3 separate regions of the Homo sapiens genome follow, and all the other regions are linked to region 2. The links come from fine-mapping of genetic effects on gene expression. A gene starts in region 2. Each other region holds a variant in brackets. All regions are shown on one strand. Distances are between the middles of the regions. Region 1 overlaps PHLPP2 (PH domain and leucine rich repeat protein phosphatase 2). Region 2 holds the start of PMFBP1 (polyamine modulated factor 1 binding protein 1). Region 3 overlaps ZFHX3-AS1 (ZFHX3 antisense RNA 1).

Evidence for each region. PIP is the estimated chance that this variant, and not a neighbour inherited with it, causes the effect.
Region 1: its variant is the best candidate, but not a certain one, in a credible set for the expression of PMFBP1 in putamen (GTEx, PIP 0.50).
Region 3: its variant is the best candidate, but not a certain one, in a credible set for the expression of PMFBP1 in prefrontal cortex (CommonMind, PIP 0.78).

What each region holds. Positions count from the first base shown.
Region 1 is chr16:71,710,523-71,721,272 of GRCh38, forward strand. PHLPP2 (PH domain and leucine rich repeat protein phosphatase 2) reads right to left here. Exons shown (of 19, transcript NM_015020.3): 2 at 3,990-4,279. The coding sequence starts at 4,273. Among named protein-coding and RNA genes, the nearest start is that of PHLPP2, 8.8 kb to the right of the region's middle. The variant G/C (reference allele first, on the strand shown) is at 5,199.
Region 2 is chr16:72,169,154-72,179,674 of GRCh38, forward strand. PMFBP1 (polyamine modulated factor 1 binding protein 1) reads right to left here and starts at 3,002. Exons shown (of 21, transcript NM_031293.3): 1 at 2,901-3,002; 2 at 2,044-2,115. The coding sequence starts at 2,055.
Region 3 is chr16:72,764,471-72,775,220 of GRCh38, forward strand. The region is part of intron 3 of ZFHX3-AS1 (ZFHX3 antisense RNA 1); the gene reads left to right. Among named protein-coding and RNA genes, the nearest start is that of ZFHX3-AS1, 100 kb to the left of the region's middle. RefSeq lists an enhancer at 6,262-7,461. The variant A/G (reference allele first, on the strand shown) is at 5,398.

The DNA.
Region 1 (10,750 bases), 460 kb before region 2:
ATTCTAAGACTTGCATGATTTCAGACAACTGAAATAGGTAATATTTATTGAGCACTTGTTAGGTGCCAGACATCAATCTAAGTACTTTATTGCTATCTGAAGTACAGCACATCTCTTAGGAGCTTAATTGAAATGTACATTCTCAGGCTCCACCTAAACCTACTGAATCAGAATCTGTACTTGAACAAGCCCCACAGGTGGACAGTTTAAGCAGCACTACAAATATTAATTCATTTAATCTTCATATCATTTATAATTTAATCCTCATGACAACTCAACAATGTAAATATTATCATCTTCCATTTTACAGATTACTACACTGAAGCACAGAGCATTATATATCCTGCATAGTAACTGTCGAAGCCAGGATTTGAACCCATACACTCTCATTCCAGAATCCAATCTCTAAACCATTGCTGCATATTATGTCTCAATTTATAGTATATCCATACAGAGGAATATTCTGTAACTATTAAAACTGGTGTCTAAAGAATTTCTAATGACACCATGAAATTAAGATGATCCAGCCGGGCACGGTGGCTCATGCCTGTAATCCCAGCACTTTGGGAGGCCGAGGCGGGCAGATCACCTGAGGTCAGGAATTTGAGACTAGGCTGCCCAATATGGAGAAACCCCGTCTCTACTAAAAATACAGAAAATTAGCCAAGTGTGGTGGCTCATGCCTGTAATCCCAGCAACTCAGGAGGCTGAGGCAGGAGAATCGCTTGAACCCAGGAGGCAGAGGTTGCAGTGAGCCGAGATCGCACCACTGCACTCCAGCCTGGGCAACAAGAGTGAAACTCCGTCTCAAAAAAAAAAAAAGGAATTAAGATGATCCACTAAGTAGACAGGAGACAGGATATAAAACTGAATATGATGTGAGCCCAAATACATAAATATTTAAAAGTATGTGGGATTGAAAAAAGATCTGGGTAAAAATAATGTTACTATGGGGAGGCAATACAGAAGACAGACGTAGTATAAGAATGCCAGGATTCAAACTCCAGCTCTACCACTTAGTAGCCGATTGCACTTAGATGAGATGCTTAACCCTGTGAAACTTTAATTTCCTCATTTATAAAATGGGGACAGCGTCTACCTCACAAGATGGTTGTGAGGATTAAATGAGGTAATTTACATAAAGCATAAGCATTGATTATCATTTCTCTTTATGCTTTTTCATTTTCCAAAATTTCTTCGGTGAACATACTTCAGTAATCAGCAAAAAGTTCCTTAAAAAGATAATGCCTTAGATTGTCAACTATCTGACAAAGGGCTTTTACGCAGAAAATACTCCCTTGATTAGATAATGTAAAACTGATCATAAACAAGTAACAGCTGAGTAACAGATCTAAAAACAATCTTGAAATAAGCATGATTAAATAGTGAAACTGAGGAAGTGTCACTGCTGCGCCAGTTCCTGTCACAGCTGGCCTTTACTCAGAAAGAAGTCCATCATCTACCTTGAATGATTCAGGCATTCCAACTGCAGGGCAGTACCTGCCTGTCCTTGAGCAGGTTACTGAATCTCTCTCAAGGCCTCAATCTTCCTCATCTAAAAGCAACGATACTACCTCCCTTGGAGTTATTGTGAGGATTTAATGAGAAAATGTGCATAAAGCACTAAGCATACCAACACATGAAAGCACTTAATGTTAGCTGAAATCTACCATCATCATCATCCTTAGCTGGATAAAAGTTATTGAGCTCCTACTCCAGCAATGAAAATATATTCATTCTTTGAAACCACAGTTCAATAGTGCTTTCATTATTTTCTAATCAATTATACCTTCAAAGGGCTATTTCATTATAAATGATGAAGGCTACAGGGCACATAAGTAAATAAACACATAAGTAAATAAACTATCACATTCGGATTCTTAACTAATTACACAACTACTAGTAGCAAGCCATTCCAGTGGGGTTTTCTTCGTATTTCTAATATCTTTGTATACATAAACATTACTATACAAATGAATACACCATATACTTAAATAAGTTAATCAATCACTACCAGATATAATATAGGTCAAGGCTTTCCACCTGATAAAATTAGATCAGAATCAGTGTTAAGACTTAGAAAAGCCTAAGGATCACCCAGTCTGATCCTTTCGTTTTACAAATGGATTTAGCAAATGTAGTAAACTGGTGAACAAGGAAAACATTCAAATGCTAATCTACTTTTTCAGGAATTAGTCCAAATCCTAAAAGGAACACATAGTAGATCTCAGTTTAGACTTTAAAAATGACATCAAATTTTAGCTCAGCTAAAGGTGTTACTATTATTACCACACTTTTAAGGTGTAAGTGGGAGCTTCCTTTTCACTTTCAACAGTATTAAATCCACAGCTTTGAATTCTGTTTCAAGACACTTTTTCAATGACAGGAAATGCAGAAAGGAGAAAAATCATGGTCAGGCATTTAAAGACCTCTTATTTGACAACTAATTCAAAGAACTAACAGCGATTTTCTTTAAAAAGCTGAATCAAAGAGTTCACATGCATAGTATAAGACTATTATAAAAATATTTTCTTCACATTTGCATAAAAATTTTTCAACACACAAATGGCTTTTAAACCCATGAAAATATGCTCATTAAGAGAAATGAAAATTAAAATAACAAAACAACAAAATTCCTCTCACATTTGCAGAAATCTAAGTCACTTGGCCTAGAAAAAGATTTGTCGTTGGAATGCTGACTTTATGATTCTCTAATTTTAAAACTTTTAACAATCATTTCTATTTAAGAGCAAGTCTGAGCTCATTCATGTGTATGTGCCTCTATTTATACATAAAATTTACTACTAACATATTTTTGAGAAAGTAAGGAGAAAATAGATATACTTTCATATTTCTGATGGAAATATAACCTCTATGAAGAAGAATTTGACAGTAACTATGAAAATTAACAATACTAATATCCTTTGACCCAGCAGTTCCACTTCTAGGAGTTTATCATACAGACTCTCACATATGAGAGATACCACAGGTACATGGATACTCACTGCAGCACTTCTTGTAGTAGCAAAAAACTGGTAACAACTTGAATGTCCATTAATAGAAGACTGGCTAAAATTATAGTAGACTCAAAATTGAACACTACTGCAGCCATTAAATAAGTGACAACTATATAAATTTTAACATGGAAAGATCTCTAAAAGATATTAAGTCAATAATGTGTTGCATACAGCACCATGAGTTTTAAAATTTATAATATATGTAGAGACACATACTCACGCATGGGCACATATATGCTTATAATTTAACAGAATATTCCTAGCGTGCATAAAGAAGCTGGTAATAACTATCAAGAACAGGCCTGGGTAGTTGGGGAATGAGGGACAGAAAAGTACTTCTCACTCTATACCCTTTTTAAAAATTTCATTCTATTTACACTTTTCAAAAAAAAAACAACAACTTTTCTTTTTTTTTTTTTTGAGACAGTGTCTTGCTGTCACCCAGGCTGCAGTGCAGTGGCATGATCTCGGCTCACCGCAACCTTGGTCTCCCAGGTTCAAGAGATTCTCATATCTCAGCCTCCTGACTAGCTGGGATTACAGGTGCGCACTACCATGCCTGGCTAATTTTTATATTTTTAGTAGCAGCAGGGTTTCGCCATGTTGACCAGGCTGGTCTCGAACTCCTGACCTCAAGTGATACACCCACCTCAGCCTCCCCAAGTGCTGGGATTATAGGCATAAGCCACTGTGCCCAGCCAAAAAAATTTAACTTTTAAAATACTTATTTTTAAATTTAGATATCTGACCTATGGTGTATTCCAAATCAAAGAACTCTCAAATTTTCCTTGGTCAATAGTTTTTAAATTCAAGATTCATAAAGTCAGCCTTCCAAGGACAAATCTTGAAGCCCAGTGAGTCCGTAATCAACATCAGTTCCGGCAGAATTAAAATCCTAAAGTCCAGTTCTAAGCAGAAACACATTATTATTTATATTACGGTAGAATTAGAGTGGTAAAACTGAGACCTCACCTGACCAGGTCTCCATGAAGCTGTAAATAAAGACTTTCTCTTCCCTCTCCAGCACATATTTCTGATGCTGGTGTCTCTACAGTGCAAAGGACGAGATGTAAGTCAGAGGAAGAGGAGGAGGAGGAAGAGGAAGAGGAGGTGGTGGTGGTTGTAGTGGCAGTGGTAGTGTCTGCTCCATAAAGGTAAACACAGCCTCTCTTTACATCTTCTCTTAGCCAGTCTCTTTCTCGAGAACCAAACCTACTTCTCCTATTCAAACAATTTCTGCTCCCATTGCGTTTCATATTTCTCTAAAAAATATCAAGAGAAAGAAATCGTTAGCTAGAACATCTGACTGAATTAGACATTTCAGTCCTCACCCCACCTCTCTCTACTTTATATTCCCCAACATTCTGCTCAAGTATCCCCTCCTTTTGTGGAGCACTTCACATCTATCATGCTCATTCGTAATAACTCAGATAACTTAATTTTCTTTACTGCTGTCTGTGTTTCCATCCATCATCTTCGTTGACCTCTCTTTTCCTTGTGTTTTCAGAAACGTGTCAAGAATAACGAAACAGCGGGTTGCAGTGGCTCAGGCCTGTAATCCCAGCACTTTGGGGGGCCAAGGTAAGAGGACTGCTTGAGGCCAGGAGTTCAAGACTAGCCTAGGTAAGATGGCAACATCCCATCTCTACAAAAGAAATTTTTTTTTATATATTAGCCAGGCATGGTGGCACACGCCTGTAGTCCCAGCTACTTGAGGGTGGAGAACAGATTGAGTTGGAGAACAGATTGAACCCGGGAGATTGAGGTTGCAGTGAGCCGTGATTGTGCCACTGCAACCCTATCTGGGTGACAGAGCGAGACCTTGTCTCTCAAAAATAGAAATTTTAATATTTTGCCTGGGCACAGTGGCTCACATCTGTAATCCCAGCACTTTGGGAGGCCAAGGCTGGCGGATCACCTGAGGTCAGGAATTCGAGACCAGCCTGGCCAGCATGGTGAAACCCTATCTCTACTAAAAAATACAAAAAAATTAGCCAGCTGTGGTGGCACACGCCTGTAATCCTAGCTACCTGGGAGGCAGAGGTGTGAAGATTGCTTGAACCTGGGAGGCAGAGGTTTCAGTGAGCCAAGACAGCGCCACTGCACTCCGGCCTGGGTGACAGAGCAAGACTCCATCTCAAAAAAAAAGAAACTTTAGGCTGGGCAAGGTGGCTCACACCT[G/C]TAATCCCAACACTTTAGGAGGCCCAGGTGAGGGATCATTTGAGGTCAAGAATTCGAGACCAGCTTGGCCAACATGGTAAAGCCCCATCTCCACTAAAAATACAAAAAAAAAAAAAAAACAAAAAATTAGCCGAGTGTGGTGGCACGTGCCTGTAATCCCAGCTACTTGGGAGGCTGAGGTAGGAGAATCACTTGAACCCAGGAGGCAGAGATTGCAGTGAGCCGAGATTGTGCCACCGCACTCCAGTCTGGGCAACAGAGACTCTGTCTCAAAAAAAAAAAAAAAACTTTAATCTATAAACCATACACAGTATTGTCTTATCTAATTTAAACTTCATCTAATCCTTAACAATACTTATGTTTCACCCTGTAATTTTATTTAGTTCAATATTGCTTTAGAGATACAACTGTGTTAATATACCCAGTTCATTCATTTGAATAATATTCCCTTATACAAATACACCAAACTTTATCCACTCTCCTGTTGACAGCATTCAGTTTGCTTCCAATTTTTCACTGCTAGAAACAATCCAGCAATAAACATTTTTGTACATGTCTCCTTATGAAAATGTGTGTTTCTCTAGGGTCCTAACCCTTTGCTTTACATCCCAAATAAGCCAAGTGTAGTATCAACACAATACTGCACAAATATACTTTCCATTCCTGCCCTGTTTCAAAAAAAATTAATGTCGCATTTGATAATTTAGGTATGTGAAATTCATATATTGCCAAGTTATCTCAAAGCAAAAACAATTTCTACAGGTAATATAACAAGTTTCTAAAGATCAGCATTTGCCTGCTCTATTTTTATGATGGGCTATTTCTGTTCTTTTTGATAAAAAAGAAATTTCCACTGACATTTCCGCAGCCATACCTCTCCAGCTTCGTTCCCTACTACTGCCCTTTACTCCATGTTTCAATCACCTCCAACTACCTGCAGCTCTCCAAACACACCAAGTACACCACAATTCTGTGGCCTGTCTGAAATGGCTTTCTCCACCTCATCCATATGACAAGTTATTCTTCAAAATCCTACTCAGGCATCACCTTCTCTATGGAGCCTTCCATATCTCCTATCCTTATTCTCCCTAGACAGAATTAATGACTACCAGACATTTTTACTAGACAGAATTAATGAATTATCTAGACAGAATTAAGAACTTCTTCACCTTGAGTACACCTCTAATACTACATCGATGACAATGGGTTTTATTTATTTATTTGATATTTCTTCCTCTTCTCCATTTCTAGCATGTTAACACCTGGGTGACACAGAAGTGTTTGTAGAACTCAGCTGACATCACAGAAACCTATTCCCAATCTGTACCTTAGTCCAATTAGCTCTGGCAAGAAGCTGAACAAACTTGGGGGGGAAAATTCCCATTTCTATGGAGAACCCTACATCTTTGCAGCAGCTGCAAAGTGAATGGGAGTAAATAAAATACTTTCAGTAGTATTCCTCATTGGAAAATAGAAATACCTATAAATACAGCAAATACTATTTTTATAATTACTAAGATTAAATATTTGAGGGTAATACATTTCTAAAGATGTCAGAGAAAGAGGAATGAAAAGTTAGCAGGTATTTCTATGTGGGAAAAAAGAAAAACAAGAGTAAGAATGGCTTTATTGTTTAAATTTAGAACTCAGGAAAACTGATCATTTTGCAGATCTTGGGGATTTAGGCATTGCTATTCAAAACCATGAGGATTATTGAATCTAACTTTAGAGAAGTAGGATAAATCCCTGCTACAAGTGAGAACTAGTTTTCTCATCAAATGCATTTTCTCAAAGCTGAACATCTCAGAATGAAAGGGCTTTCAAGGGCTTACTGCATAAACATAGGGACCATCGTATTTGTACTAAGTAATTTTAACCACTGAATAGTCAAATACTGCTAATAGTTAAATATTTAGTAGGTAAATACTGTTAAATTTTAAATACTCCTCATTTTTTAATCTTTGGGAAAGATTAACTGGACCATCTGAAAACAGTATTCCATATAGTATAGCAATATTTATACAAAGCTCCGCATTCTCTACTCAGTGGAGAAAAAAGAGTAAGCAGACACTGTTTCACACAAACAAAAAAGTCGTCTTCAGAACAACTTTCTAAGGTCAAATAATGGTCCACTGACCTTCTAAATCTTAGAAAAGTCAAGGAAGACTCCAGGAAGTTTTGTTTGTTTTGAGACACGATCTCGCTCTGTCACCCAGCCTGGACTACAGTGGCGTGATCATAGCCCACGGCAGCTTCGAACTCCTGACCTCAAGTGATCCTAAAGCCTCAGCCTTCAGAGTAGCTGGGACTACATGCACATGCCACCACACCCAGCTAATTTTTTGTATGTTTTTAAGAGATGGAGTCTTGCTATGTTGCCCAGGCTGGTCTTGAATTTCTGGACTCAAGCAATCCTCCTGCTTGGGCCTTCCAAAGTGCTGGGATTACAAGCATGAGCCACCACACCAGGCCTGATTTTTCTTCTGTGAGGATTTTTAACAGTCATTTTTAGTGCATATATATTTACCTTAGATTATAAATTCCTTAAGGAACTTTACATTATCAAAACATATATGCGGTCGGGCGCAGTGGCTCACACCTGTAATCCCAGCACTTTGGGAGGCCAAGGCAGGCGGATCACAAGGTCAGGAGTTCGAGACCAGCCTGGCCAACATAGTGAAACCCCGTCTCTACTAAAAATACAAAAACATTAGCTGGGCGTGGTGGTGCACGCCTGAAATCCCAAATACTTGGGAGGCTGAGGCAAGGAAATCACTTGAACCTGGGAGGCGGAGGCCACAGTGAGCCGAGATTGCGCCACTGCAATCCAGCCTGGGTGACAGTGCAAGACTCTATCTCAAAAAAAAAAAAAACAAAACACATGCCTGTAATCCCAGCACTTCAGGAGGCCAAGGAGGGAGGATCACTTGAGGTCAGGGGTTCAAGACCAGCCTGGGCAACATAGTGAAACCGCGTCTCAAAAAAAATTAAAATAAAATAAAGATTAAAACAACAACAACAAAATATACACGCTGTTGGTCATCATTTACCTCAAAGGATCTATCTCCTGTCTACATGATACATTCCGCCCTAAGAAGATAAACTGCTAAGTTACAACTTCAGTATATATCATTCTCTTAAACCTGACCGATGGGCACTTAAAAGGCCTGGATATTAAGCAAAGCAAAGGCTTACAGCAACAATCTAGATGGACTGTTTAGCTGTTATTAGCCACTGCTGAATTGCCTAGTGCTTCCTTCTTCTCAAGAATGTCTTGCTCCACTGCTTAACACATCAGTTAACTGCTGGAAAAACCTTCCTAGGAGCCAGGACTGCAGATGACACGGTCCTCTGAGGTGCTTTCAACTTTTAGAATCACCATTCTACTGGAATTGCTAGGTTGAGAAAATTATTTTCCCCTTACTCTTATAGAATTGTTATCACAAATTTATTTGAAAGGGAACACAATGACAATTACCTCTTACATCAAACAAGTATACAAAGAGCGTATTTTAGATTTAAAGATCTTTCTAGCCGGGCGCAGTGGCTCATGCCTGTAATCCCAGCACTTTGGGAGGCTGAGGCGGGCAGGATCACCTGAGGTCAGGAGCTCGAGACCAGCCTGGCCAACGTAGCAAAACCCCGTCTCTATTAAAAATACAGAAGAATTACCCGGGGGTGGTGGCACGCATGCCTGTAATCCCAGCTACCCTGGAGGCTGAGGCATGAGAATCGCTTGAACACAGTAGGTGGAGACTGCAGTGAGCGGAGATCACGCCACTGTACTCCAGCGTGGGCTACACAATGAGGCTATCTCTCTAAAAAGTATCTTTTTTAATTTTTTTGGCATTAATTGTTTATACATACTTTGCTCAACACCCAAAACTATTCTTGAAAAAAAAAAAAGAATCTCATGACACACACCGACATTAGTTGTAACTTCGTATCTTCTATAAGCTATGGGCCTGGGTGACACAAGGAGACTCTGTCTTTAAAAAAAAAAAAAATCTTTCTAGAAGGCAAAAGTCTTGAGGGTAAGCCATGAATTAAATACCCACTGCTTCAATTTTACACTTTTGTTTGTTTGTTTTTTTGGAGACAGCATCTCCCTCTGTTGCCCAGGCTGGAGTGCCGTGGCACGATCTCGGCTCACCGCAACCTCCACCGCCCGGGTTCAAGCGATTTTCCTGCCTCAGGCTCCTGAGTAGCTGGGATTACAGGTGCACAACACCATGCCCAGCTAATTTTTTTTTTTTTTTTTTTTTTTTGAGACGGAGTGTCGCTGTTGTCCAGGCTGCAGTGCAGTGGCACAATCTCGGCTCACTGCAGGCTCCGCCCCCCGGGGTTCATGCCATTCTCCTGCCTCAGCCTCCCGAGTAGCTGGGACTACAGGCGCCCACCACCTCGCCTGGCTAATTTTTTGTATTTTTAGTAGAGACGGGGTTTCACTGTGTTAGCCAGGATGGTCTCGATCTCCTGACCTCGTGATCCACCAGCCTCGGCCTCCCAAAGTGCTGGGATTACAGGCGTGAGCCACCGCGCCTGGCCACGCCCAGCTAATTTTTAAAAATATTTTTAGCAGAGACGGGGTTTCACTATGTTGGCCAGGCTGGTCTTGAACTCTTGGCCTCAAATGATCCACCCGCCTCGGCCTCCCAAAGTGTTGGGATTATAGTAGTTAGCCACTGTGCCCAGCCCAGTTTTATACTTTTAACTCTAAAAGTGTTCCATGAGGGCAATGATCAGTTCAAAGGTGATATACTATTACACACTCACATACAATAATAAGATATACATGGTATAAACAGGGTCTGGTAAAGTAACTCTCCATATTCAGTTAGTTCTGCAAGAATGTGAAATACGGCCGGGTGCGGTGGCTCATGCCTGTAATCCCAGCACTTTGGCAGGCTGAGGCAGGCGGATCACCTGAGGCCAGGACTTCAACACCAGCCTGACCAACATAGAGAAACCCTGTCTCTACTAAAAATACAAAATTAGCCAGGCGTAGTGGCACATGCCTGTAATCCCAGCTACACGAGAGGCTGAGGCAGGAGAATCGCTTGAACCCGGGAGGCGGTGAGCCAAGATCGTGCCATTGCACTCCAGCATGGGCAACAAGAGCGAAACTCCACCTCGGAAAAAAAAACAAAAGACGAAAAAAAAAAAAACAATGTGAAATACTCTTAGGTAGAAGATGTTTCTGCATTCAAAACTTTAAAACAATATAGACTCATATCTGGGAATACACACGTTATTAAATATTGTGAAAGCGGTGGGGAGGGATGGGATGAGATAGAGAAAGAATATGTCAGCGCTTTAAAAATGTTTTGGGGCTGGGTGCGGTGGCTCATGCCTGTAATCCCAGCACTTTGGGATGCCGAGGAGGGACAGCCTTTAAGCCCAGGAGTTGAAGGCCAGCCTAGGCAACAAGGTAAGACCTCATCTCTACTAAAAAAACAAAACAAACAAACAAAAAAAAAAACGTGCCTATGATCCCAGCTACTCAGGAAGCTAAGGCAGGAGGATCACTTGAGCCATGATCGCGCCACTGC
Region 2 (10,521 bases):
GATATTATCTTATTTGTCTGAGGATGAGGACAAATCTTCAATAATCAATGGGAAACCACTTTTAACCACCACTAATATCACAACCATTCAATTTATGGTAAGAGTTATGCCTTAAGAATCATGAAACCTTAAAAACTAATATTGATTCAGGAATTCTTACATTTCACTTGTGTAATAGTAGAGTTTACAGTTATCTACAGTAATTTTAAACACTATTATTGATATTACTGACTTGATTCCCAAGTTGACTTTTCCATTTATAGAAATATTACAGTTTTTGCATTACTTATGAATGAAATTAATGGGTACTTATACAAGGTTTTGCCTGTGAACAAAAATTTAGAACCAATTATGTTCATATACTGAGGAGTGACTATATTTTATGGTGTTCTAAATTCTTTTAAAATTGGTGTATACTTATGTAACAAACCTGCACATTCTGCACATGTATCCCAGAACTTAAAGTATAATAAAAAAGATTTAAAAAATAAAGAAAACATTATGAAATGTAAGAAAGATAAACACACACACACACACACACACAGATTAACAAATTAAAAAAGATATCTGAGAGATCCCCTTATCAGCTGTGTATTCAAGCACAAGTTATTTAACTTCTGTGCCTACATTTCCCCATGTATAATATAGAGATAATTATGGCTTTCTTAAGGTTGTTGCAAGGATTAAATGCATTGGTAAATACAATGTACTTAGAACACTGTCTGACACATATCATGGAAGGCTAGATTAGTGTTTGCCATAAAAACAAAATTGGCACACCCTGTAAGTATACAGACTAGGATACATATGACATATGTTGGAGATCAGCCACCTATGGAACGTGGGCTGATTTTTATTGGCACCTGGGCAATTTTCACAGACTTTTTTCACTATCATATCATTTGAGAAATTATTCTACTAAGAAGGTAAGCTCCATGAGAGTAGAGATCTTTGTCTATTTTGTTCACTGCTTTATTCCCAGCTCCTAGAACAATGAACGCCTGGCATATTGAAGGTGCTCCAAAGATATAAATTAAATGAAGAAAGAGCCTTCTAGAAAATCCATACGAGATCCTTGTTCCCCACAGAACTGGTATGAAGTTCTGTATGGCTCCAGTAATGCAGCAGGAAAGGAGTGGACTGCCTGTTTCAGAATCTGCTCACCTCTTGGTAGGAGGTCTGTTAAAAAGCATATGGTACATGGGACAATCCTTTACTCATCAAAAAAGTCCCCTTAAATCCTTTCTGGAACAAGGTAGGGCATACATAAACATAGTTTGCTGCTGTTGTTGTTGTTTGAGACAGGGTCTTTGTCGCCCCGGCTGGAATGCACTGGTGTGATCATGGCTCACTGCAGCTTCAACCTCCCAGGCTCAAGTGATCCACTTGCCTCAGCCTCCTGAGTGGCTGGGACCAAAAGAGCGTGCCACCACACCTGGCTAATTTTTTTTATTTTTTGTAGAGACAGGGGTCTTACCATGTTGCCCAGGCTGGTCTTAAACTCTTGGGCTCAAGTGATCCTCCTGCCTCGGCCTCCCAAAGTGCTGGGATTACAGGTTTGAGTCACTGCGCCTGGCCCCATAAACACAGTTTGACCAAAATATTAAACTAATCAGACACTCCATTTTCATATCATTCCAGATAAAGAGAGAATGTTAGCAACAATAGTTAATATCGATTAAGTGCTTTCTACATGCACTACCTTTGCTAATCCTCATACCAAGTCTTTGGAATAGGTGATCATCATTCATATTTTCTAGATAAGGCAAAGGAAACTTAGAGTAGGTGATCACAATTCATATTTTCTAGATAAGGCAAAGGAAACTTAAAAGTAGGAAACAAACTCAGTATCATACTGCTGGTAGATATGGACCCAGACCCACCCAGCTCGAGTCTGGGCTCTTAAACACGATGCTCTGCTGCCCACCTCTGTCCATGATATTTTGTGATGCTTATTACTGGAATTTTGAATCATAAAACATGAAAAAAGTCCCTTGTAATGAATATTCAACTCCATGCATGTAGAGGAGTTAGGAGCCTTACCTCATCTTTCATTTCCTTGGCAGCTCTCAATTCTCCTTTAACCTTTAGTATTTTCTGAGCTTTGTTATAAACCTGAAAAAGTCCAAGTATTTAAGATGGAAAAAGTATAAATGAGCCTCTGCCCTTTAAAGATTTTCCCAGCTGGATCTATGCCCTCAGCAAGAGGTTTGGAAAATTTTCCTGAACTGTTAGCAATACCCACTTGCTTACCCATCTGTTTGTGTTTTTAAAAGGGTGTTAAAACCTCCAGATGGCAGGACCATGGTTTTACATCTTTTCCAGAAAACCACTACTTGGTGAACCAAACAGTTTCTGAATTTACCCTTCTTGGAAAGCAAAAAGTCTGAATCGAGTTTACTTTTTAGATTTCTATGTACTCTATGGCTCAGATATAGCTAATATTATGTACTTATTATGAACCAGACATGATGTGCATGACCTAACTTCATTCTCACATGAACCCTGGGAGGCAGGGACTACTACTATCCTCATTTAAAGATAAGGAAACTGAGGCCCAGAGAGGCTAAGTGACTTACCCAGGGTCACAGAGGCTCTCTTACTACTCTATGAGGAGCTTCCATTAATTTTGTAACTATTCATATGAAATATCTGATGATATGGTGTTTTTGAAGCATCAGCTTGCCATAATGTTGATGCTCATAAAGTTAGGAAACATGTGAAGTGCTGAGACTTATCTAGCTAGAAAGCCTCCCAGGAAACCAAAGATCTTTGCACATGTATGTGCATGTAAGTACAGGATGATGCATTTGAGGTCATAATGCACTGAGCTTATTAAAATCATCTCATTCATTCTGTTTTTAACCCTAAGAATAGAGGAATTTCCACCAGGAACTTACCTGCAGAATAGTTCAAGGAATGAGAAGCTATCAAAATACTCATCCTTTGTAACAAACCACATCCCCTATCCCTAATATAAGCCAAGAGGAAGAAAGAATGTTGGTGATATGTGGAATCTGGAATGTTTTATGGAGCTGAATTCTGATTTCCTGCATTGAGTACCCTCTGAAGTCTTCATGCACAGAGGTGCATCATGGAAATGGAGGTGTGGCTCAGGCTCACCTGGTGGGGACAGGCTAGGTGATGGTGTAGTAACAAACAACCCCCAAGTCTCAGTGGCTTACGACCGTGAAGGTTTATTTTTTACTCATGCTACATGTCCTTTATGAGTCAGCTGGGGCTCTGCTCCACATTGTCCTCAATATCCTCGTAGTCCTCAGCTGGTGAACTTCTATTATCTAGTATGTTGCCTGTTGCCATGGTAGCAGAAAGGGAACTTGGTGAATCACCTACTGGTTCTTAAAGCGGAAGTGAAACACTTTGCTTCTGCTCACATTTCATTAGCCAAAACAAGTCACATGGCCATGCCTAACTTCTTCCTTTACCTCCTCAAAGAAATATAGGCATATGTCAGAGAGATTGCGGGTTTGGTTTCTGACCACCAAAATAAAGCGAATATCACAATGAGACAAGTCACACAAATTTCTTGGTTTCTCAGTGCATAGAAAACCTATGATTACACTATACTGTGGTCTACTAAGCGTGCAATAGTATTATGTCTAAGAAAACAAGGTGCATAACTTAATTAAAAATACTTTGTTGCTAAAAAAATGCTGATGTGGACATAAGGGAGCACATGCTGTTGGAAAAATGGCGCCAATAGACTTGCTTGATGCAGGATTGCTACAAACCTTCAATTTGTTAAAAATGCAATATCTGTGAAGCACAGTAAAGTGAAGAGCAGTAACACGAGGTATGCCTGTACTGGCGAACTCACAAATGACTTCCACACTAGTCAAGCAAGATTAAAAATAGCGTGGCATAAAAGAACACTAAACAGGATTCTAGGCCACCAAGCTTCTAAACCTGGTTCAGCACCTCACTGGAGGAGTGGCCTTTGCAAAGGCCTTCATATCTCTGAGGCTTCATTTCTGCTTCTGTAAGCTAGGAAGCTATAATAAATGGCCTTTAGAAGTCTTTCCTAGCTTTAAAGTTCACTGATTCAGTGCTCTACCACGATGGACACCTTTCTTTAGGAGGAACTATGAACTCACCCAAGTATCATACAAAAAGTTGTAATGGAACAAATGTATCCTTGAGAATCATACTTCTTTGCAGGCAAGCCCACTGGATAGTCAGGAGATGATTCTGAAATCAAATGAAATCTTGTCCAAAAGACAGAGAAATGATTTTCTAGATTGTGATGGTTTCATCCGCTATGGAGTTACACAGCTGTAGTTGCAAGAGCCAAGAGCATTTCGAAGGAAAAGTAGAAGGCATAGGTTCTAACATTTGCATGAAAATATATTGAAATTTACTAAGTAAGGTAAGTAGGAAGAAAAAAAGAGAGCTGGAGTTTGTTCCATGAAGGAGATGTCAGAATCTTCAGTCATTAACAATAGCAGCAGGCAGTTTGGAAGGGCTTATGATGAAAAAACTGGAAGTGTTATATGATAAGTTTTTGATACATTTGACAGTAATGTTTGCCAGATGGATAGGGAAGAGTGTTTTGGGGGAGCCCCACAGGCTTTACGAAATGCCATGTGAACCTTCACAGTGCTGTCTGACTGAGGAGTATGGCTGGACAGATATTTTGTGGAGGAAGGGCTCATCCCAGAGGCAGGGACTCTCTACCAGATCCCCGGCTACTGACTCTCTGAAGCCAGGACTTTGCTCATGTCTCCCTCTTCTTGAACCCTTGTTCTTACATATTCTGTTCTGCCTCTTGCGTCTCTGTTGAGACCTTCATTTCTTCATGCCTTGTCTACTGCCATCTGCCCAGGCAACTCCTTTTTTGTATTCAAAACTCCTGCCATCTGCTTTTCAAAGTAGGACTTCTCTTGGTGACAGCTGTGCCTAAAGAAATGATTGTAGTGAAAACAAAAACTTGGTCAGAGCTTCTAGTGATGTTTTGTGCCTTCCCTCAGTCTACTATCAGAGCACCTTGCAGATTCCCAAGAAACACCTAACACCACACCTCAAATGGGTGACTAAGGTAGCAAGTATCAAGTCAGGTGTGCAAAAAGAGAAAGTAACTCTTTCTATTACTCAGTGTTTTTGTTTAGCCCCATTTTCACCAAATGGCAGAAAACACAATCTTAGTTATTTCTGAGAAAGCACCACGACTTTCAGGTTAAAAATGAATCAGTTCATGATTCCCTCACAGTTCATGATTCTCTCAACCTCTTTAAGGCGTCTCCAGAGTGTGCTTAAGATTTTGAGGTCCCAGTTTGGATCCTGGCACCAGGGGAAGCTTGTGGTCCATGGTCATGGGCATCTCTCCTAGCTAGAGTATGCCGAGGTGTCACTGTCCTGGTCAGTAGGCCACATGTACTAGTATTAGTCTGTTCTCACATTGTTATATGGAAATACCCGAAACTGGGTAATTTATAAAGAAAAGAGGTTTAATTGACTCATAGTTCTGCATGGCTGGGGAGGCCTCAGGAAACTTACAATCTTGGCAGACAGCACCTCTTCACAAGGTGGCAGGAGAGAGAATGAGTGCCAGCATGGCAAATGCCAGACACTTATAAAACCATCAGATCTCGTGAGAACTCATTCACTATCACGAGAACAGCATGGGGGAAAACACCCCATGATTCAATTACCTCCCACCAGCTCCCTATCACAACACATGGGGATTGTGGGATTACAATTCAAGATGACACAGCCAAACCATATCACCTTATATCCTGTGTCTTCCTCATCCTAAGGGCTTTGGGTCATCTGGCACTTCCTCATCCTTTGAAGATGCTCCTCCCTGTTCCCCATCAAGACACAAACACATGCACACACATACCACACATACATACACACACACCACATGAGAGTAGATTCAGACTGTCTCTTAGACTTGTCCTATCAGCATTCTATCTTTTACCTTGAAAGGTATTGAGAGAAAGAGGACAGAATGCTCACTTTCCTGGTTTTGATCAAAAGTCCCTCTGCCCTTCGATCACTAAACCTATCTGGGAATCTATTGTTTTCCCTCCCTTCTGCCCCATCTCATAGATCTCACCAGGGTCTAATTCTCCTGCTTATGTTCCAGTTACCCTATTCCTCCTCTTTCCTAACTCAAACAGTCTTTGTGTGGTTTTGGAGAGAGGAAGGAAAAGGGGCATAAGTGAACAAGTTCTCTGAAATGCAGTTTTAGCAGGCCAGGATGTGAAACACATCAGTTAGTACTTCACATACCACCTGCCCACATTGGGTTACACAAATGCCGTAATCACAGACTGCTAATTTTGACTCCCTCCCCAAGGAACTGGTAAGTGCCTGGGTATATGGTTGACTCCTGGCCTTACAGCAACCTTGTTGCTCCAAGGAACACCGACTATTCCTTTTCCTTCATGGCCTGGATGGAAGAATATCAAGGGTCTGTTTTTCCTAATCTAAAACATGTTTCCGGGTTTTCAGGAAAGAGATGCTTTTTTGGTTTAAAATTAAAGCTATCTTTGTGGGATAATACAAACTAACTCAGGCTTACCTATACTAAGCCATAAGTCTTTCCTTTACTTATGTTGGGCTTTAGATTTTTCTCCAATGTTCTACCTCCTACCAGTGAAAAAAGTGTGATGAATCTTAGAGCTCTTAATTATTGAAATGATGAGAGGGAGCTAAAGGTTTTCTCTATTTTTAAAAATGTGTGAGCCCCATGAACAGACAGGGATACTTATTGTATACTAATTATTTCTACCCAGAAAGTATGATTGGAGCCAATGTGCAGAGGCTTGGTGTGCAGAGGCTTGGCATGCAGAGAGTTCGCCTTTTTGAATCCAAACCCGGTTCTAAAGGAGAAAATCCCTGGTAGTGCAGAGCATAACTGGTAGGGGGAGATGGTATGAGGAGATGATGTTGGAGATGGTTTTGCCAGGGTTTGGGGTTCTGCAGAGTAACAGTGAATAGGAACCTGACACCAATGTCACTGACTGAGCCACAGTCCAATTCCAGGACTGGAGTTCTTCTGGAGAGAAAGTAGGGCTAGTTGGGTCTCTCCAGAAAGAGGCTTTTGAATGACAGAAGAAATTAGGGGCCAGGAGGAGCAGGAGAAGGAATCCAGGATTTATGAGACTCACTGTCCTAGGTGAAAATGTCTCCCCCTGGCTCTCTTCTTTGCTACCTTTCACAGAGGCTGTTTGTTGTCTGTTCCAACATCCATACTCTTTATTTTCCTTAGTAACAGATGCTCATTTTATTGGGATGTGCATGCACTCATCTAAAAGACTCTATCTCCTAGCCTCTCTTGCAGCTAGGTATGATTATGTGTCTAAGTTTTGGTCAATGAGACATAAAATGGAGTATTGTGGGGACTTCCATGAAATCTTCTGAAAGAGAAGTAGTGCACAGCTCTTTGTTCTTCCCACCTTTCTAATGGCTTGTAATGCTGACTTAATGCCTGGTGTTCCACCAGCCATCTGGAACATGAGGCCTTAATGCTATGGAACTATCATTGCCAGCCCTGGATAGAAGGAGCAATTTCTATCTTGCTTAAGTAATGATTTTGTTTTTAATTTTTCTGTTTCATACACCTGAATCTAATGCAAGCTGACACTGACAAAACACACTTATTTAAGTTACTCTCAGAGATCTCTCTCTACAGTTCACTCACCGTTTCTAGCACCTCCACTAGTTGCTTATACTCTACATTTTGGAACCCCTGTTTCATGGTGGACCAGCTCTTCAGCGATTCCACAGATATGTTTCTCAAATGCCCCTTCCCTTTCTCGACTTGCCTTGGTTTTCTCTTGAGATGTCAGTTCTTTGTGTTCACTTTCTCCTTCTCTATTTGCTGTATGGAGTAGAAACAGCCAGGGTCAGGGAGAGAGGAACATTTCAGCCTTCCTACTGCCACCACTATTACTCCCATGCCATTTTGGAAAATTTCCCATTTTGAAGTACACAGTCCACCTAATCTTTGTTGCCATTATCATTGACTGACATGGAGAAAATTCTCCCAATTGGTTGCTCTTTCTTTCTTTACGAGATATATTCTTTCTGCCTGTCCAAAGTCACACATCTTCAAGACCCAACCCAATTGCCATTTCTTTCAACTTCCCTAAACTACATGTCACATTAACTCTTGTATGGCAGCTACTATATGCCAGGCAGTGTTCTGAACATAAAATAACAGAGCTAATCCTCACAGCAGCCTTGCCAGGTGTGTACCCTTTCCCCCTTACAGCCCTTTTCCCATACCTCTTTTAACACAATGATCTGCCTTTATTATGGTTGTTTGTGATTTGCTTTGTCTCTCCCCAAAGGTAGAAGTGATCTATTCTGGTGAAAGAACAGGAACACACAGACCTTTTTGAAATAATTTTAGATTTCCAGAAAAGTTGCAAAAATAGTACACAGAGTTCCTGTATACCCTTTCCCCAGTTTCCCCAATATTAACATCTTACATGATGATACGATGATCAAAACTAAGAAATTAACATGGGTCCAAAACTATGGACAAAACTGCATACTTTGTTAGGATGTCACCAGTTTTTTCACTAATGTCCTTTTTCTGTTCTAGGATCTGATTCAGTATTCCACATTGCATTTAGTTGTTTTATATCTTTAGACTCCACTAATCTATGATAATTCCTCAGTCTTTCCTTGTCTTCCGTGACTTGGACACTTTTAAACAGTACTGGAAAGTTAATTCATAGAATGCCCCTCAATTTGAATTTGCCTGATTTTTTTTTCTTTTTGAGAAAGAGTCTTACTTTGTTGCCCAGGCTGGAGTGCAGTGGTGTGAACATGGCACACTGCAGCCTCGACTTCCCAGGCTCAAGCAATCCTCCCACCTCAGCCTCCCAAGTAGCTGGGACTACAGGCACTCACCACCAAGCCTGGCTAATTTTTGTATTTTTTTGTAGAGACAGGTTTTCACCATGTTGCCAAGGCTAGTCTCAAACTCCTGAGCTCAAGCGATCTGGCTGCTTCGGTCTCCCAAAGTGCCTGATGTTTCTCTGTGCTGAGATTGAGGCTATGCATTTTGGGCAAGTGTGTCATACACCTTCTTAGTGTATCATGTCAGGGATACATGATATCAATGCATCTTATCCCTGATGATGTTGACCTTGGTCACCTGGTTATGCTGGTGTCTACTGGGTTTATCTACTATAAAGTTATTATTTTTCCCCACTATAATTAATAAATATATTAAGGGAGATACTTTAAGAGTATACAAATATCCTGTTTTTCTTCAAACTGTCACCTGCTATCTTTAGCAAGGTGGATCTCACTTGCAATAATTGTTACAGTAGTATTCTAATGGGGGTCTTCTTTTTCCTTTATTTCTTCTACATTTATTCGCTGGAACTCTTCTGTAAGAAAGAGCTGCTCTTTCTCACCCATTTAATTAATGTATTGTTTACATCACTATGAACTCATGGATATCTATTATATGGGCTATAATCTAATACTGTTATTTATTTTGTTGCTCAAATGTTCCAGCTTTGGCCAATGGGCCAAAGGTTGGCTCCTGAGCCCTTTCAACAATACCCATTCTTAAGCACATTCTTACTTTTGGGTACGAGATGCTCCAGGTTCATCTTATACTTTTCCCTGCCTCAGCCACTTCTTCATGGAGTCAGGGCTCACATTTTGACTCAAGTTAACTTCTCTGAGTCTCAGTTTCCCCATTTGGAAACAACTGGAACAATAATACCTACCTTACAGGGTGGTTATGGGGATTAAATAAATAATGTAATGGGGTAATATTCAGACAATTTTAATGGGCATTTTTTCTTTGCCCTCTCCACCATAAACTCTCCAACATAGACTCTGCTTCTTGAGTTGCCCTGGGCTGGCACTATGCAACAAGACTCTTGTCTTAAGAAAAGATTTTCCAAATTCCTTTATCTTCTCTCCCCAACCCAGCCCTCCTCCACCTTCTCCCAGGTTTCAAAGGGCTCAACAAAAAAGTCAAGGACTTTTGAGGGCGATATTATCAACTGGCATTCTCAGAGGTGCCTGCTCTCCAGCAGGAGAAGGGTTAAATGCTTTGTGATAACTTCAGCTCTGAACTGCCAAGTCTCTTAGGTTCAGCTCAGCAATCAAACTGCATAACCTAATAGAGCCCCTGGTGCTATGGGAAACACAAGACACTGATTTATATTTTAATATCAGTAATTTCCACAAGAGCAACATTTCTGAGTGTCATTTTACAATTTCTGTCAAACGCCAGCTCAGTTTTTCTTAATTCTGTTTATTGTGTCTGAATTTGCAACCTCATCCGCAATGCAGATTCTTGACTCCCAGGAGAGAAGAACATTTCCATCTTTCTCTAGAGTGGGAGGGATGAGGATGAGGGGCAGAAATGGGCTTATAAGATAATTGAAAATGTAAATGAAGTACTGTTTATTAAGAAATGATTGTGAAGTATTTTTGTTAAAAAAAAAGGCAGTTCTGAACAAACTTAGCAAAAAATGACAAACAAAAGAGATGTTTTGGATCCAAACTGGAATCTTT
Region 3 (10,750 bases), 600 kb after region 2:
CAAGGAAGGCCAGTGACTTTTCCAGTCTCTGACAACCAGCAGCCTGCCTCTGATTCGCACAGTCGGTGAAGGAAACATATGGAGAAAATGGTGGAAATAATTAAGGGTTCTTGGAGTTAGCAGAAGCATTGACTCATTACACGGGGCCCCTGCCTCAAAAGGGAGTAAACCATTGTGCTTATTAGAGAAAAGAATGAATGGTAACAAAGCATTTTAAAGTCCCAATCAGTTCCAGCCCCAGGTTGAAGGGCTGGTTAGGTAAGAAAAAAGGGAAACAACCCAGATTTAAAGGAAGCGATATCATTTTGCTCTGCTTGATAAATAGGAAAAGGTAGTTTGTGGTTTATTTTACTATATCCCAGGATAATTTGGTTCCTGCACAGCTGACAAAATTTTGTTCTCAGATATGATATCAAAGATCTACATATTATGTAGTTGCCCAAATAGAGGGCCAGTCCATGAAGAGTCTGAATAAAATTGTTGCTTCTCTTTCAGATGTGTCACAGGGCAGTCCTTGTTAGAGGATAGTGAGATGTGTTGAATGGTGTCTTTGGGATCCTCAAGCACAGATTGTAAACTCTGCTTCAAGTTTTACAGTGTCTCAGATTCAAATCTTCTTTGCCTGCAATGATAAACAGAGACACAGCCTTCTCTGAAAACAAATATATCTCATAAGGATGTCCTCCACTTCTCCAGTCCTCATCCCGCACAGCCTATAAGGTGCTGAGCAATTGATAGATCCTAGAAAAGTCCTGAAGTGCTTCAAGCAAACAAAAGGTAAATAAAAGGCAGCAACAGTCCAAGTCAGTCATTTCTAGGCATTTGCTTGAGGCCAGGAGTCTGAGACTGGCCTGGGCAACATAGCAAGACACTGTCTGCTAAATAAGTAAATAAATAAATAAGCAAGCAAGTCGGGTATGGCGGTGGTGCGTGTAGTTCTAGCTACTCAGAAGGCTGAAGCGGGAGGGTTGCTTGAGCCTAGGAGATCGAGGTTGCAGTGAGCTGTGATTGCACCACTGCACTCCAACCTGGGTGACAGAGTGAGACCTTGTCTCTAAACACACACACACACACACACACACACACACACACACATGCGTGCACGCGTGCGCAGAATTTGAGGTTTTTATCTGAAGAAAGGGAACTGTTAGGTAGATATTGGTAGCAAAACTGTCACATAATTAGATACGATATTTCATTCTTAGAACATCTGATGGCCTGGGTTTTTTTTTTTTTTTAATATTTTCTCTCATTATAAGAACTATCACATTAATACAAAGTGGATGTCCTAGATGTCTCAGACTATATGTCTTTACTGGGTTTGGTGTTCCTGTTGACATCCTTTTCTTTGGCTGTCTTTCTAGAATCCTGAAAGACTTGCTGCTTTTCAGATTGAAATATCTCATATTAATGCCAAGATTAACATTCTGTTCTTCTTAGGCAATCAGAAATCGTATTCTAGATTCACACTGTTCATAATTTCTCAAAGTTATGGTAGAGAAGACAGGAACAAGGTCGTTACTTACAAAAATACCCTTGGCCTTTGAATCTCGCCTGTCTGTAGATTCACTCTTTCATGGCATTTAATAAAGAGCATGGCTTTAAAGTGCTGAGTCCAAACCTAAAATTGAATAAATTAATCTGATCTTGAGTGCTTACCTTTATAGAGTTTAGTTGTGCTGGTTATATTTAGATATCAAAATGAAGGAAATAGTGTGTAAATTCCTGCTAGGAAATCACCATTTCTTGTATGTTAATATAGCCAGTCTTTATACCAAATGGAACTTTAAACTAAATAAAAACAAAACACCAAACTATGACTTAGATCATTCTTGAAAAAGAAATATAAGAAGTGAGGTTTCCGAAAATATTTCATTTCCTTCAGTAAATGTCCTTCATTTATCTTTATCATACTATGTTATGGTGTGTTTTACCAAAAGAACATTTCAGCAGATGAAGAAAAAAAAGGCTTGAGCAGCATGACTACCCTCCTTGAGCTTTTGACTACGGAAGTTCATAGAAGAGGAAAAGATGTCCTGTGGTTCCCTCAGTGTATTATAAGGAAGGGCATTTATAATCAGTCACTGGAAGTGGGATCTTAACCCACCCCCATTCCTCCCATACACAAGAGAGGGAGGAAAGGAGAGAGAAAGGAAAGCAAGCGAGCAAGCCTGAGGAGTGTGTACATGTAGTCCTCATTCAAAAAAGGATTTGAGATAGCAAGCTGAGGATGAAGCAAGAGAATAGAACGGGATGACCTAGTGGTGGAAACAACAGCTATACATAATGGGCCTTTAGGAAAGGGGATTAAGTGAAGTATTCTCAGCTGAATCAGTTGTTAACTATTGCATAGAATTTTCTTTCTTTCATATTCCTAACATTAATACATTACTAAAATTTTACTACATTACTAAACACATTACTAAATAGGAGCTTCATTCTGATTGTCTCGATTTTTCCTCCTGTGAGTATTGTCATCTAGAAAAGCTTTTGTGAGTACTTAAAAAGCCCACAGTAATTCACGTACAGCAATCCAAAACAACAAGTAATTTTTAGAGAATGCTTAGGACTGGTTTTTTTGTTGTTGTTGTTTATGTTTTAAGACAGGGTCTTGCTGTATCACTCAGCCTGGAGTGCAGTGGCATGTTCCTAGCTCACTGCAGCCTCAAACTCCTGGCCTCAAGCCATCCTCCTATCTCAGCCTCCTGAGTAGCTGGGACTACTTTCATACACCGCCACGCCCAGCTAATTTTTAAATTTTCTGTAGAGATAGGGTCTTACTGTGTTGTCCAGGCTGCTCTTGAACTCCTGTCTCAAGCAATCCTCCCTCCTTGGGCTCCCAAAGCACTGGGATTATAGGCATTAGCCACAGTGCCATAAGACTGTTTGGGCTGGCTACCTCATGATTCTGGGCATTTGCTTTAGTAGGTTTGCTTTGCCATTTTATTTAAGTGATATGAGTAGGAGTAAATCTCCAGGTTTCTGGGAGAGAAATGCCTTTATCTCCAATAAACATCAGGATGAAACCCAAAGTAGATCAATGGCATACTTTTAAGCCTTGTCAAATAACCTGTTGGGTTTTGTTGTTCGCAAGTAACTTTTCATCACTAGTGTATAAAACTTTACTATGGCATCACTGTACCAAACCAGTTAAAACCAGGGATGTAACCAGCTACAAAACAGCCCAAGGCAATAAGCTGTGGTGTCAGGAAACAACATTTATATTTAAATGTCTTCTTCACTAAAATAAACCTGAGATGGACCAGTTTTCTTGGCCCACTGTAATATTAGGCACATCTGGCATAACATGTAATTCTTGTTTTGTTATTTTTGAAATAACATTTAAAACACATTTTGTAAAAGTAATATACTTGGTATAAAGTTCAAACAGTAAAAAGGGAATACAATACAAATTAAGTCTCTCTCCCATCCCTGATGCTCCCAATTCCTCAAAAGTGACAGTTGTTACTTGTGAGTCCCTCTTATATTCAATATGTGTGCTTGCTTGCACACGCATGCTCTCTCTCATACACTCCCACATAGATACAGTATATATACATATAAAATAAATGTTAGCATACTATGTAACCTGTTCTGCATGTTTTATTTTTTAAAATCCATTTTATTGTAGAAAATACACAAATATAGAAAAGGGCTTAAGACTTAAATGTACCGTTATTAACAATGTACTTGGAAGAGCAGAAGCTTTGAATTTCAAGTCTAATTTGTCAGTTTTCCTTCTGTGATATTTACTTGCTGTGACTAAGCCAAGAATCTGTGATAACCTAAGGTCACAAAGATTTTCTATCTTTTCTCCTTATCCATGTGTGAAAAAAATATAAAACTGGACCTCTATGTAGCATGACTTTAAGGCAGACTGTACACCCAAAATCCCTTTTAGCAAAATAATAAAGTTTTTAGAAGATAATATAGAGGAATATTTTCATGACCTTGGGGTAGGGGGGATTTCTTTAAAAAAAAAAAATCATTTATGAGGCCAGGCATGGTGGCTCATGCCTGTAATCCCAGCACTTTAGGAGGCCAAGGCAGGCAGATCACCTGAGCTTGGGAGTTTGGGACTAGCATGGCCAACATGGTAAAACCTCGTCTCTACTAAAAATACAAAATATTAGCCAGGCATAGTGGTACATGACTGTAGTCTCAGCTACTTGGAAGGCTGAGGCGCCAGAATTGTTTGAACTTGGGAGTTGGAGACTGCAGTGAGCGGAGATCATACCATTGCATTCCAGCCTGGTTGACAGCGTAAGACTCTTGTCTCAAAAAAAAAAAAAAATCATTTATGAGAGCAGGAAATGCTGATAAATTTGACTTTACTAGGAACTTCGTCAGCATATCAAAAGGCATTACGAAGAACACAAAATGCAAGCCACAGAGTAAGAGGAAGTATCTGCAACATGTATAACTAGCAAAGCACTAGCATTCAGAATATACAAAGAACTCCTACATTAGAGAAACAAATTCAAATCACAATGAGATACCAGTACAAACCTTTTAGCAGTACTATAATTTACAAAATTGACAATATCACTCTAGTGGTATTCAAAGCAACTGGAACTTTCATGCATTGTTAGTGGGAGTGTAAAATGGTATCATCATTTTAGAAAACATTTAGGTAATGTATTATCAATTGCTGCATAATAAGTTATATATATTTAGCAGCTTAAAACAACACACATTTATTATCTCACAGTTTGTATGTGTCAGGAATCTAGATGCAGCTTCACTGAGTCCCCTGCCTCAAGGACTCTATCAAAGCCTCAATCAAGGTGTCAGTCACACTTGGGGTCTCACCTGAAGCTCAAACAGGGAAGGATCCTCTTTCAAGGTCATGTGGTTGTTGGTAGGATTCAGTTCCTTGCCTCTATCATTGAAAGCCTCAGTTCATTGCTGCCTATTGGTTGCCCTCATTTTCTTGCCACTGGACTGTGCCATGTGGCAGCTTAATTCATCAGAGCCAAGAAGGATGAGAAGAAAGTCTACTAGCAAGAGAGAAGTTACAAACTTATGTAATGCAGCCATGGGAGTGACACCCCATCACCTTTGATGTATTTTATTGGTTAGAAGCAAGTTACAGGTTCCACCCAGACTCAAGACAAAGGTATTACACAAGGATACACATACCAGGAGGCTAAGATAATTTGGGGCTATTTTAGAGTCTGTCCACCACAGGTAGCAATCTTATAAAGTTATGTGTTATCTGGTTATGTGTTACCATTTACCATATGATCCCACATCTAGGCATTTATTCAAGAGAAATGAAAATATATGTTCATACAAAGATCTATACATGGATGTTTATAACAACTTTATTAAAAATTGCCCCAAACTGGAAATAACCCAAATATTCATAATCTGATGAACAGATAGTTAAATCAT[A/G]GCATAGCCATACAATGGAACACTATTTTGCAATAAGAAGGAGGTACTGATACATGTAACAACATAGATGAATCTCCAAAGTCTTATGCTTAGTGAAAAAAGCCAGACACAAAAGGCTACATACTATATAATTCTGTTTATATTATATCCTATAAAAGGCATAGCTACGGGGAAAGAACACAGATTAAGATTAGTCATTGCCTAGGCTGGGGATTGGAAGGGCATTAACAACAAAGGAGGGAACATTATGGTGGTAATGGAAACAATTTAGTATTTATTTTTATATTTACTGGTGATTACACAGTAAAATATGTGTGATTACACACACACATATTTGTCAAAACTCATAGAACTGTGTACCTGAAAAGGATGATTTTTTTCTGTATGTTGATTATACCTAAATAAATATGACTTAAGCAAGTAAAAACATTAGTACTCAAGGATTTTTGTTGTTGTTGTTAAAGACAATAGAGTTTGAAGTTTGGCTAATGGATATATTCTATTTTGCTAATGAATTTTTGAAAATTAAAATATATTCATCTTTTTTCTGAATGTTGTTTTCCCCTCTATGGCAAAAATGCCTTCTCAATTTATTGACCATGTATTGAACTCATGGAATATTCGCCTCTCATTTGCCTTGTAATTTTGAGTATTAAATACAAATTCATAAATGCCTAAGACTTAAAACCATCATTATTTACATATAAAGGCTAATGATAATAATTATTCTCACTTCCTGGACAAAACAAGAACTTTAAAAGATTTTTAACTTCATTTACCCTCTCCTAATCTAAATGCTAATGTTGTGCATTTTATTTCTATATAGTTTTTTTCAAGTTACACAGTTATTGTTTCATACTATATGTATTCATTTAGATTTGCCTATGTACAGTTTCAATATTTTTAAAATGTTCATGTCTTTTTTGTATCAGATCTTCTGTCTAGGACCATTTTCCTTCTAATTGAAGTACATTCTTTAATCAGTCTACAAGTGGCAAACTCTGTTTTTGTTCATTTAAAAATGTGTTTATTTTGCCTTTATTCTAAAATTATCCTTTTCTGGGTATAGGATTCTATGTTGGTAGTTATTTTATTAGAGCATATTGAAGATATTATTCTACTGTCCTCTGGCTTCCATTGTTTGTGTTGCATAACCAATTGACTATCTAAAAGCTATTTCTTTGAAGGTAACAAGTCTGCTTTCTATGCCTACTTTGGCCTCAGTTTTCTGCATCCTCACTATGATATGTATACTTCTTTTGTTTTCTTTTTTGTAAAATTTTTCTTTTTTTGAAGATACAATCTTGCTCTGTTGCCCAGGCTGGAGTGCAGTGGCAGGATCTCAGCTCACTGCAACCTCCGCCCCCTAGGTTCTTCTGCCTCAGCTTCCTTATTAGTAGCTGGGATTACAGGCATGTGCTAACATGCCTGGCTAATTTCTGTATTTTCAGTAGAGACGGGGTTTTGCCATGTTGGCCAGGCTGGTCTCGAACTCCTGGCCTATATAATTATTTTCTTTACTTCCCTGTTCTTCTTCTACTTTCCATTGTACTTTGAATCTCTGGATTTGTCTCTTTCAATATTTCTAGAAAATTCTCAGCTGTTATCTCTTCAAATACTGGCTCTTTACCATTGTCTTTCTCTTCTCCATCTGGGACACTGACTGAATATATGTCAGACCCTCTCACCATGTGCTTTATATATCTTACCCTTTCATCTGTATTTTCTCTTTTTCTCTCTATGTTCTGCATTTTAGGTAAATTCTTCTGATCTGTTTTCTGATTCATTAATTATTTAACTATGCCCGGTCCACTGTTAAATTCATTGAGTCCTTAATTTTAGTTATTGTATTTTTGTCATTTGAATGTTACTTTCTTGTCCAGTGACTACATCCCTAAGCTCTTTTTAAAATTTCTTCAGGTATATTCCGCATAGTCATTTCATTCTCTGCATTTGATCATTTGAACATTTAAGTCATTAAGGCTCTATTTCTGTTGTCTCCTGTTTCTCACTCATGGAGTCTTAATTTCCTTGTGTTTTATTTATCTTTGTGAGCTGATACTGAGAGGTGAAGCCAACTGGACTTCCTGGGTTGAGTGGGGACTTGGAGAACTTTTCTGCCTAGCTAAAGGATTGTAAACGCACCAATCAGCGCTCTGTGTCTAGCTAAAGAATTGTAAACGCACCAGTCAGCACTCTGTATCTAGCTAAAGGATTGTAAATGCACCAATCAGCACTGTAAAAATGCACCAATCAGCGCTCTGTGTCATCTAAAGGATTGTAAACACAGCAATCAGCACTCTGTAAAATGGACCAATCAGCACTCTGTAAAATGGACCAATCAGCAGGACATGGGCAGGGCCAAATAAGAGAATAAAAGCTGGCCACCTAAGCCAGCAGTGGCAACCCACTCGGGTCCCCTTCCACCCTGTGGAAGCTTTGTTCTTTTGCTCTTCACAATAAATCTTGCTGCTGCTCACTCTTTGGGTCCACACTACGTTTATGAGCTGTAACACTCACCTCGAGGGTCTGTGGCTTCATTCCTGAAGTCAGCGAAACCACGAACCCACTGGGAGGAACAAACAACTCCGGACGCACCACCTTTAAGAGCTGTAACACTCACTGCGAGGGTCTGCGGCTTCATTCCTGAAGTCAGTGAGACCACGACCCCACCGGAAGGAAGAAATTCTGAACATCTGAACATCTGAAGGAACAAATTCTGGACACACCATCTTTAAGAACTATAACACTCAACACGAGAGTCCTTGGCTTCATTCTTGAAGTCAGCAAGACCAAGAACCCACCAAAAGGAATAAATTCCAGACACAATACTGTGTTTTTGAAAATTATTTGTAGAGATAATTTTAGGTATATAATGAATGTACCTTCTGCTAGTGAAGCTTTATATTTGCTGTGTCAGGTAACTGTGGCTACTATCAGTCCAGAAAACCAATTTTAAATCTTGAGATTCCACGGATTTCCTGGTGAATTGGAACTCAGACTGTCAATCTGGATGAGGCCTGTTCTATGTATGGATTACCCGTTGAGGCTACCTCAAGATTGTAGCCTCTTTTGGTCCTAGTTTATTGTGTAAGGTGTCTCCTGTTAGAATCCTCTTTTGTAGGGGCCCGGGACTTTAAATTTCGTACTTTTTCCTTTAATGATGCTTTCTTAATATTATGAAATTTCTAGTCATGATCAAATTTCTAATTGTCTTAAATATCGTAACTTTAAAAAATATATAGTTTGAATCAGGATCCAATTACATTTACATTGCCATTGTTTTTAAAAATAAGGTTTTTAGGTATATTTTAATGCATAAGCTTTTTCCTTCCAATGCCTTCATTCTCATTGCAATTTATTTGAAAAAGATATCTCTTTGTTTAATATAGAGAGTTTCCCACAGTCTACTTTTGGTTTATTGCATCCCTGTGCTATAGTTTAATGTGTTCCTCTATTCTCTATATAACTTTTGTATTAGTTTTCTAGGGCTGCCAAAACAAATATCATAGACTGGAAGAATTAACAGAAGTTTATTTCTTCACAATTCTGGAAGCTGGAAGTCCACAATCAAGATGTTGGCCCTTCTGAAGGCCTCTCTTCTTGGCTTGTAGATGGCTGTCGTCTTGTGGTGTCTTCATGTAGTCTTATCCCTGGGCCTGTCTGTGTCCCTATCTCTTCTTCTTATAAGTCATGTTGTATTAGGGCCCACTTCAATAAGCTCATTTAAGTTTACCTCTTTAAATACCCTAGCTCCAAATACAGTCACATTCCTAGGACTTCAACATCTGAATTTGGGGTGGGGAGTGAGGGGAGACACAATTCAGCCTGTAACACCTTAGGAATTCATAGTTGGATCTAGAGACAAGATCTTGGTCTGTTGCCCAGGCTGGAGTACAGTAGCCCAATCACGGCTCACTGTAGCCTTGCCCCCGCCCCCACACCTGGCTCAAATGATCGCCCCACCTTAGCCCCCCAAGTAGCTTGGACTTCAGGTGCATGCCGCCATTCCTGGCTACCTAATAAAAAGATTCGTTGAAACAAGGTCTTGCTATGTGGTCCAGACTGGTCTGAAACTCCTGGGCTCAAGCAATCCTCTCACCTTGGCCTCCCAAAGTGCTGGGATTACAGGTATGAGCCACTGTGCCTGGCTAATGTTATACTTTTCCATAGATAGTGACATGATGTTTGGTTGCTGCTTTTTTATAACATTGTGTGTAGAACAGTAGGGAGTAAGGTAAATAGTATTTATGCCCAGATAGGGACATGCTTTTTGTTTGTTAGGAGATTGAGTCAATAAATCAAGAAGAGTAACCTCAGTATACCATAGACTTCACATCCTCTAATTGTGGGCTGCTGCTGCCCTGTGTTTCGGGTGGAGGCTTGGGTATCATACAGTGGGTTTTTCTCACTCAGCGTTAGGTTCATGGTAGGAGCAGGAAGTGGGTATTCTTGGTGATCCAGGTCTAGCATCCATCTTAGGCAGGCCCTGGCAAAAGGGCTTGGCAGTGGGCTTTCTCCGTGTTCCTGCTCCTCCTCTCCATAGCAGCAAACGCTACTCTGAGTTGTTGGTGTTGAGCAAGAGTTTTCCCAAAAGGACTTTCTCCATGTTCCTGCTCCTCCTCCCCATAGCAGCAAACTCTACTCTGAGTTGTTGGTGTTGGGCAAGAGTTTTCTGTTTCTCCCTTAGTGGTAGCAGATATCTGATGCGTATTGGTGTAGGATCCTGTACCCATGACCTTTTCCTGCTCCTGCCCCTGCCCTAGGGGTGTAGAGTTTTTTCCTTCTACCCTCTTTCCTCGCCACAAAGTGTCTTTTGCCTGTGTCCATGGGGCAGTAGGGTTAGCTATCCCTTCCTCCAGTGCTTTTGCTTTGTAAGGGAGAAGGTCCTCTGAAACAGGCTGTGCTTAATGCTTGTTTCCTAACATTAGCTGATCACCTCCAGTAGGCCTGGTAGAGGCCCATAGAAAAGAGTAGCAAGTGAGTGCTAAACTCACTCATCTATGCCTGTGAGTGCTAAACTCACTCATCTATGCCTGTCCCCACCCTCATCCTAGGTATTCCATACTGAACTAGCCTTCAGTTGGTCATTAACATTTTGTCACATTTGTACTTGATTTCTTATAGATTTTTAGAGTGGCCCTTTCTCCTATGCTGTGCTAAAGGTAAGATAGTTGTGAGTCTTCTTTCTTCCTGAAAGGGCTTGCTCCTTTTTGGAATTCAGTTTTCTTCATTGTTATCTAACCTCAGCTCTCTGATGGATTCAAGAAAAATGATAATTTTGTAGATTTTTCTAATTCTGATGCTGTTCTTTTATATCTTTTATCTTTTAAAAACTTTTTCATTGGCTCAT